2 linked regions of the Homo sapiens genome follow. The protein of the gene in region 2 interacts with the protein of the main gene of each other region in a pairwise test. Each region holds a gene or a part of one and is shown on either strand. Other genes may lie near its edges.

The links.
Region 1: the proteins of EFHC2 (region 2) and JAKMIP2 interact in binary tests that used the Homo sapiens proteins (3 or more experiments, as listed by UniProt).

The regions. Positions count from the first base shown.
Region 1 is NC_000005.10:147,587,834-147,590,728, forward strand, and holds part of JAKMIP2 (janus kinase and microtubule-interacting protein 2), read right to left. Parts: 3' UTR 1-2,895.
Region 2 is NC_000023.11:44,176,173-44,179,672, forward strand, and holds part of EFHC2 (EF-hand domain-containing family member C2), read right to left. Parts: intron 2,393-3,500; coding exon 2,195-2,392; intron 2,037-2,194; coding exon of another isoform or gene 2,035-2,036; intron 213-2,034; coding exon 120-212; intron 1-119. UniProt on the Homo sapiens protein: Microtubule inner protein (MIP) part of the dynein-decorated doublet microtubules (DMTs) in cilia axoneme, which is required for motile cilia beating.

The sequences.
Region 1 (2,895 bases), on a different chromosome or scaffold from region 2:
GTGGAGAACACATTTGCTCTCTACCTAAGTGATAACCCAGGCCTTCTATATCAGCTCTACCTTATGGACTTGGGAAGACACATACAACCTGTATGAGCAGTTATTTGTGGGCCAAAAAAAAAAAAAAAAATTAAATCAAGATCTATTCTTCCACCCCTAAAACCTAACTGTTGGTAATAATTTAATTTATATAGCATAAGTCAGAAGGGTTGTAATTTTTTTCAGCAAATTCTATTTCCTAAAAGTAGGGTGGCATTAAAGAAAAGTTTGACATTCAATTTAGTAATAGATGCTTTTTAAGTATGATAGTCAAAGATAGTCTCTCTATGTTTTTCCCCTCTTTCATGAAATTTTTCTATCCTGAATAACTATTTAAATTGGGTCTTTTATTTATCTCAAATTATCTTTAGTAGTCAGTTATGTTTATTTTCCAGGGTATGAATATTTTATTGAGAAAAATTAAGTTAATGAACCCGGAAGAATGCTGTTCTGACTGCTACAAACTCAGTAGCCAAATGCATCTCGGTAGTACAGATGCAGAAGTGGGGCCACAGGAAATCTCAGTTATTGATAACTTTTTTTTTTTTTTTTTTGCTATTGCTGAACATCCCATCCAAGGGAAGCATTCATTTAAACACGGTCCATTTCCATGGATCCATGAGTGACTGGAACACATATCCACAATTTTGCTGATGCTTTTATAATTGTGAAAATGGATAATAGAGAGATGTATCTATTGAAATATTTATACTTTATTCAAGGATATATTCATTTTGAGGCTCATGAGCAAGAGTTGGTAAAAATTACAGTTCAGTCTATAGTCTTGAGAAATTTGCTAATCTCCCAGATCTTAAGCAAAAAGAAAAAACAAGCAAACCTTTTGCCTGGCCCTAAACACATCTAAAGCTGCTTGGACAATCATCCTAGCTGTTGTTCTCATATGACTTATAGCAGATAAGCAGATTAGGTATATAAACCATACCACTTTTTCAAAAATTTTCAATCATTTAGAAATAGTTACTCATGGAAATAAATTTTGACTTACAAATTTCTTGGTGGGTGGGAAAGCAAAATTAAGAGAAGGAAGGTGTGTGTTGGAGCAGACGGAATATAGATTTACTCATATGGGCCCTGCAACAGAAAGTGAAGAAAAATGGAAAAGTCTTAGATATGTGAGAGTAATTTATCCTCTTCCATATTTTCTGACTCAAGTTGGCTAGTGTTGGGTCACCAACACTGTAGAGGCACCCTCTTTCACATTTCTTGCCTAATGAGCATATGGCTCATATTTAATCTGGAACCTACCTAGTTGAATAAAGAATCCAGCAGGAGGCCGGGCACAGTGGCTTACACCTGTAATCCTAGCACTTTGGGAGGCTGAGGCAGGCAGATCACTTGAGGTCAGGAGTTCGAGACCAGCCTGACCAGCATAGTGAAACCCTGTCTCTACTAAAAATACAAAAATTAGCCAGGTGTGGTGGTGTGCACCTGTAATCCCAGCTACTAGGGAGGTTGAGGCAGGAGAATCACTTGAATCCAGGAGGTGGAGCTTGCCATGAGCCGAGATTGTGCCAATGCACTCCAGCATGGGCAACAGAGCAAGACTCCATCTCAAAAAAAAAAAAAAAAAAGAATACAGCAGGATAGTCTGTTTTGTATCTTCCCAGTAGGGCATACCACCTGGCTTTCCTCCAGAATAAAAGATAATCAAGCTAATTATGTGATACTGTCAGTTTGCTCCAAGCCTTTGTTTAATGACTGGCTCTCCTGTGGTAAAAGTGGGGTTCTGTATGATGGCATGCATATGCAATCAAGAGAGCTGGGAGATGCTTATCATAGAAATGACACACTCTTCTATCTTGTTCAATAGCATGAGATGATCTATTTCCTATAGATTATTAAAGATCCTGGTTTTGAATCTCTCAATTTTTATTGCTAATAATGTCCCAAGTAGCTTGATAAGCAAGCTTCAGTGCTATAGTGCTTAAATTTAACCAAACTGAAGCACTATTTTATTACATGAGGGAATCTTTTTGTCAACAACACAAGAAAGTCAAATAATACAGCACTTGTAATAATTACAAAGCACATTGTGCTACTTTAAGCACCTCTTGTTCTAAAATTGCAAATAAAACTTTATGAAAAAGCATTTTAACCCCATTTTGCAGATGAGGAAACTGAGGCACAGAGAGGTTAAGTGACTGGGCCAAAGATACCTGGGTCAGCAGTAAATGTAAGAACAAAAAGTGGGACCCCAGCATTCTAGTTTTTATTGTACATTCTTCAGTTATTGTTCTGGCTTTGCAAATGCCAGTGCTAAAACTGAAGGATGATAGTGAACCCACATATGGAAAGATTTGTATAGCATTTCATAGAAAGAGTTTCTGGCTCCCTACACATATTCTCTATGCATGGGAATTCTAGCCCCATAAATAAAACTTCAAAAATTTGAAAAATTGAGGTTGTTCTGTTATCTACAGTAAATGAGGTGTAAAATTAGCTTTTCAGGAACATACATTTGCTCTCAGAGATGACTCCAAGACTCAGTAATACACAACTTAGGAAAAGTACCAGTCCTCTAATTGTCTCTGGTAGAAAATGACCTTGTCAGTAACATAATGTTATTTCCATATAAAAAAGTAGAGCTATCTTGTTGCTGTCATCTGTCTGGGAAAAAATGTTATCACTCTAAACAAGAAGAGGTCAGAATGCTCTAGGCATGTGAGGATTCTTTAAAAAATAATAGTTTAGTTTAATATTCACATCTCTGTGGCAAACCCGACTCTTGGTAGAAATTTACTCATTGATTCTGCTGTGTTTTTGCCCAAATCATATAGCATATTCATTTGCAGGCAATTTTAAGCAGCCATTTGAAAAACAGTATTTTGGAAATGA
Region 2 (3,500 bases):
TATAATCAAAACAGTTAAGGGTAAATCAAGGGTAATTAAAGGGAGATGTAAAACCAGGAATGGTCCCCCAAATAAAACTATGCAGGACAATCCCTATCAAGAGTGGAACTCTAACTTACCTTGACAATAAGGATTCTAGAAGATCATCACTCAAAGGTAATCTGGAGGATTTGCACAGCCTTTTAATGTCTTTGGTGGGTAATACATTTTTTCTGCATTAAAACAACGTAAATGAGCTTTTATATACCTTGTATACCTTTAGTAATAATTACATACTATAGGAAAGAAAATACATTTGTGATGTTTCCTGAGAATGTACACATGGAAGTATGAAAATTGGTATTGGAATTCACAATAAGGAAGAACAGTCACATTTCATTTCATCAACTTTTTCTATTTCAGAGGCCACCAGACTCCATCCTTACAAAGGCTTTTCCTTCAAGATGCAGATTCTTGGTTGGTGACAGTACAGCCTATTAAGGCTACAGCCACAAGTGTTGCTCTAAGTAATTGATCTGCATTCTTGACCACTAGTCAAAAATGGTTCTGATATTTGAAAACATCTCTTAATTTGACAGGCATCTAGAGCCTCCAACACAAGTATGATATGACTTGAGGGTGTTTTTCTGTTCTTTTCCTTGGACCCAAACCTTATCACCTGGAAGCCCCAGCTGGGGCCTCAATATTCACTTCAATTTTTTCAGATGCTAGCAGTTTTCTCTAGAGCAGCCCAAAAGTCATTTTCTCCAGTCTTATGGGGGCAAAGACATTCTTGTCCAATGTTCTCATTCAGCCAACACTTTTCCAGGCATCGGGCAAAATTAGAACCAACAGGAAAGAAAGTTGGCTCTTTTCTTTGCAATGAGAATGTTTATATCTAGAATCAAAGCTTGATGGATCTGGAAGAACCTCAGGCTATCTGGTCAAGCAGCCCCATTGTTCCTAAGAAGTGTTCCTTGAATGAAGGAGGGCCACACTTCTCACTCTGGGGAAGGGGGCAACACCAGGGTGGAAGGCAGGGCCAGGGCCATGCAAAACTCAGGCCACACATCTTCTAGGAAGCTTGGGAAAGCTTAAAGAGTCAAGGAAAAATACCATCTTTATAAAAACTCAAAGAGGATGCATTATGGATTAATAAAAAAAATGATTATTTCTAAGACAAACTATGGGACCTACACAGATATTCAGGGAATGCAGTTGGCCACTTGGGTTCAGACTTCAAGTTTGGGGATAAGGCAAGAAGTCACAAGGAAGAGAGATGGCAGTGGTGTGCAGCAATACGGATTAGAAGCTAGAGCAAGAACTAAGATTTTTCTAATTCCAGATGAAATCAGTAAATTTATATTTCTCCCCACTGTATAAGGTCTGTAAGATGAATGCAAAAAAAACACATTAAGTTGTTTGCATCCAGTTGTATGTAACAATGACTTAATGAAGCTCAACACGCACACAATCAATGTATAAGAAATAGCTTATACTGAACTTCATTATTTTCAAGAAGAAATAATTTCAAAGAAATTCTACAGAATGTTTGCTTGAAAATTCCATTTTCTATTTATTATAAAAGTTACATTTATAAATCCCCATCAGTACTAAAATAATGTAAAAAGACGACATCTCAGAATTAACCCTCCTAACATTTTGATTTACTATGCTTCAGTTGAAAGCTTCTAGAAACAAATGAAAAGAACATGCAAGGGAGAAGCCTATTCTTTCAAAGATACAGGGCCTCCCCTATTCCGTCAACAAGACTAGCCTGGCCAACATGGTGAAACCCTGTCTCTACTAAAAATACAAAAAAAAAAAAAATTAGCTGGGTGCGGTGGTGCGAGCCTGTAGTCCCAACTACTCAGGAGGCTGAGGCAGGAGACTCTCTTGAACCTGGGAGGTGGAGGTTGCAGTGAGCCGAGGTTGCGCCACTGCACTCTAGCCTGGGCGACAGGGCCAGATGCCATATCACACACACACACACACACACACACACACACACACACACAAGCTCTCCATCACTGGGAAATATCTGTACCTAAATACTTCTCCGAAAATGATTTAAGGTGTTTGTGCTAAATAGTAGAGTATGAGTATGATGACACATGTCTATTTTCTTTTTGCACTTTTTGATAAAATAGAAATTCCTTCATTACTCAGGTTCACAGAAATGTAAATGATTAGAATCAATAAAACAAAAGCTTACTTTTCTCGATCTTCATACACACAGGAATAAATGAAAGTGTCGAAATTCTCAAACATATTTTTCTTGAACTTTTCGTGGGCCAGTGCGATTAAGAAATCCATATCTGAACATGTGCCCTCAGGCACACGGTAGTGACGTGCAATGGTTACAAATTCTTGCTCTGCAAGGTTTCCAACAGTCAAAGACATCAATATGTCTCTGTAATAAAAATGGAAAAACATTTATAAACTGATATCTAAGAATACAGTATTTTACATCTCCTTCTATTTAAAAGATCCAAATTCCATTTTACAAAACTTTTACCAACTGTACAGAGGTCATGTGATTTTTTTAACTTAATTTCTCTTCTTAATTTGGGAGCAGCAGGAAGGCACCAATGCCAGAATGGAAAATCATAGGCACTGTAGCTTATAAATAAAATGGCATTTTGCCCAGAGTTAAACACCTACCAAATAACAGCCTGCAACCAGGAAGTAAATTTTTAAAGGCTTTGAATGGTCAAAAAACCTATTACTAAGTACATGACTTTATTCAATGCCTATTAATCTTCCTTACACAAAATAGTAACAGGCTTGGGTTTCTGGTTTCCTGGGACATAAAATTTGTAAGTTAATAAATTAGAAAGGTGTTTTGGGATGGGGAAAGCAATCATGCACATTTCTGTAATAAAAAGTAAAACTGGACACACCCTGGCAGTGAGAAAAAAAAACAAGAGAAAAAAAAATGAAAAGTTAAAAGACCTATGTAAGCGTACAGCTGTCTGCATCTTTAGAAGGCAAATGGTACTGAGATTATTAGGCAGAGCTAAAAAAAAAAAACTAAACAACAACATATCAATGAAGACGACTCAAGGCCTAGCAAATTGGCTGAATTGTTTTCAATGTAACTCTGTATGAAAGCCATAAACTAAGCAGCATACACCAGACAGAATTATATCAAAATGATTAAAATGCAAAATGTTATGGTGGTTACAGGAATAAGCTTCCACTGTCTAGAAAATTTATTTACTGGAAATAATTCAGTTCCCAAGAATCCTGAATAAACAAGGGAATAGAAAATTTTATTTGGCCTTCTGCTAGAAAGAGGTCTTTCAGAATAAATGCTTTCAGTTCTTTTAGGTATTTCTGGACATTATCATCTAATAATTCTAGATTCTCCTAGTCAAGAATTTCCATAGAGTCTAGGAAAGCCCACAGCATTGATGTTGACCTATCTAAAGGAAATTCATTTAATCTACATCTACTTCTCAAGTTTCCTGGGTTGTTTTGTTTTGTTTAAATTTGGTTTTGCTTTTGTATTTTTAATG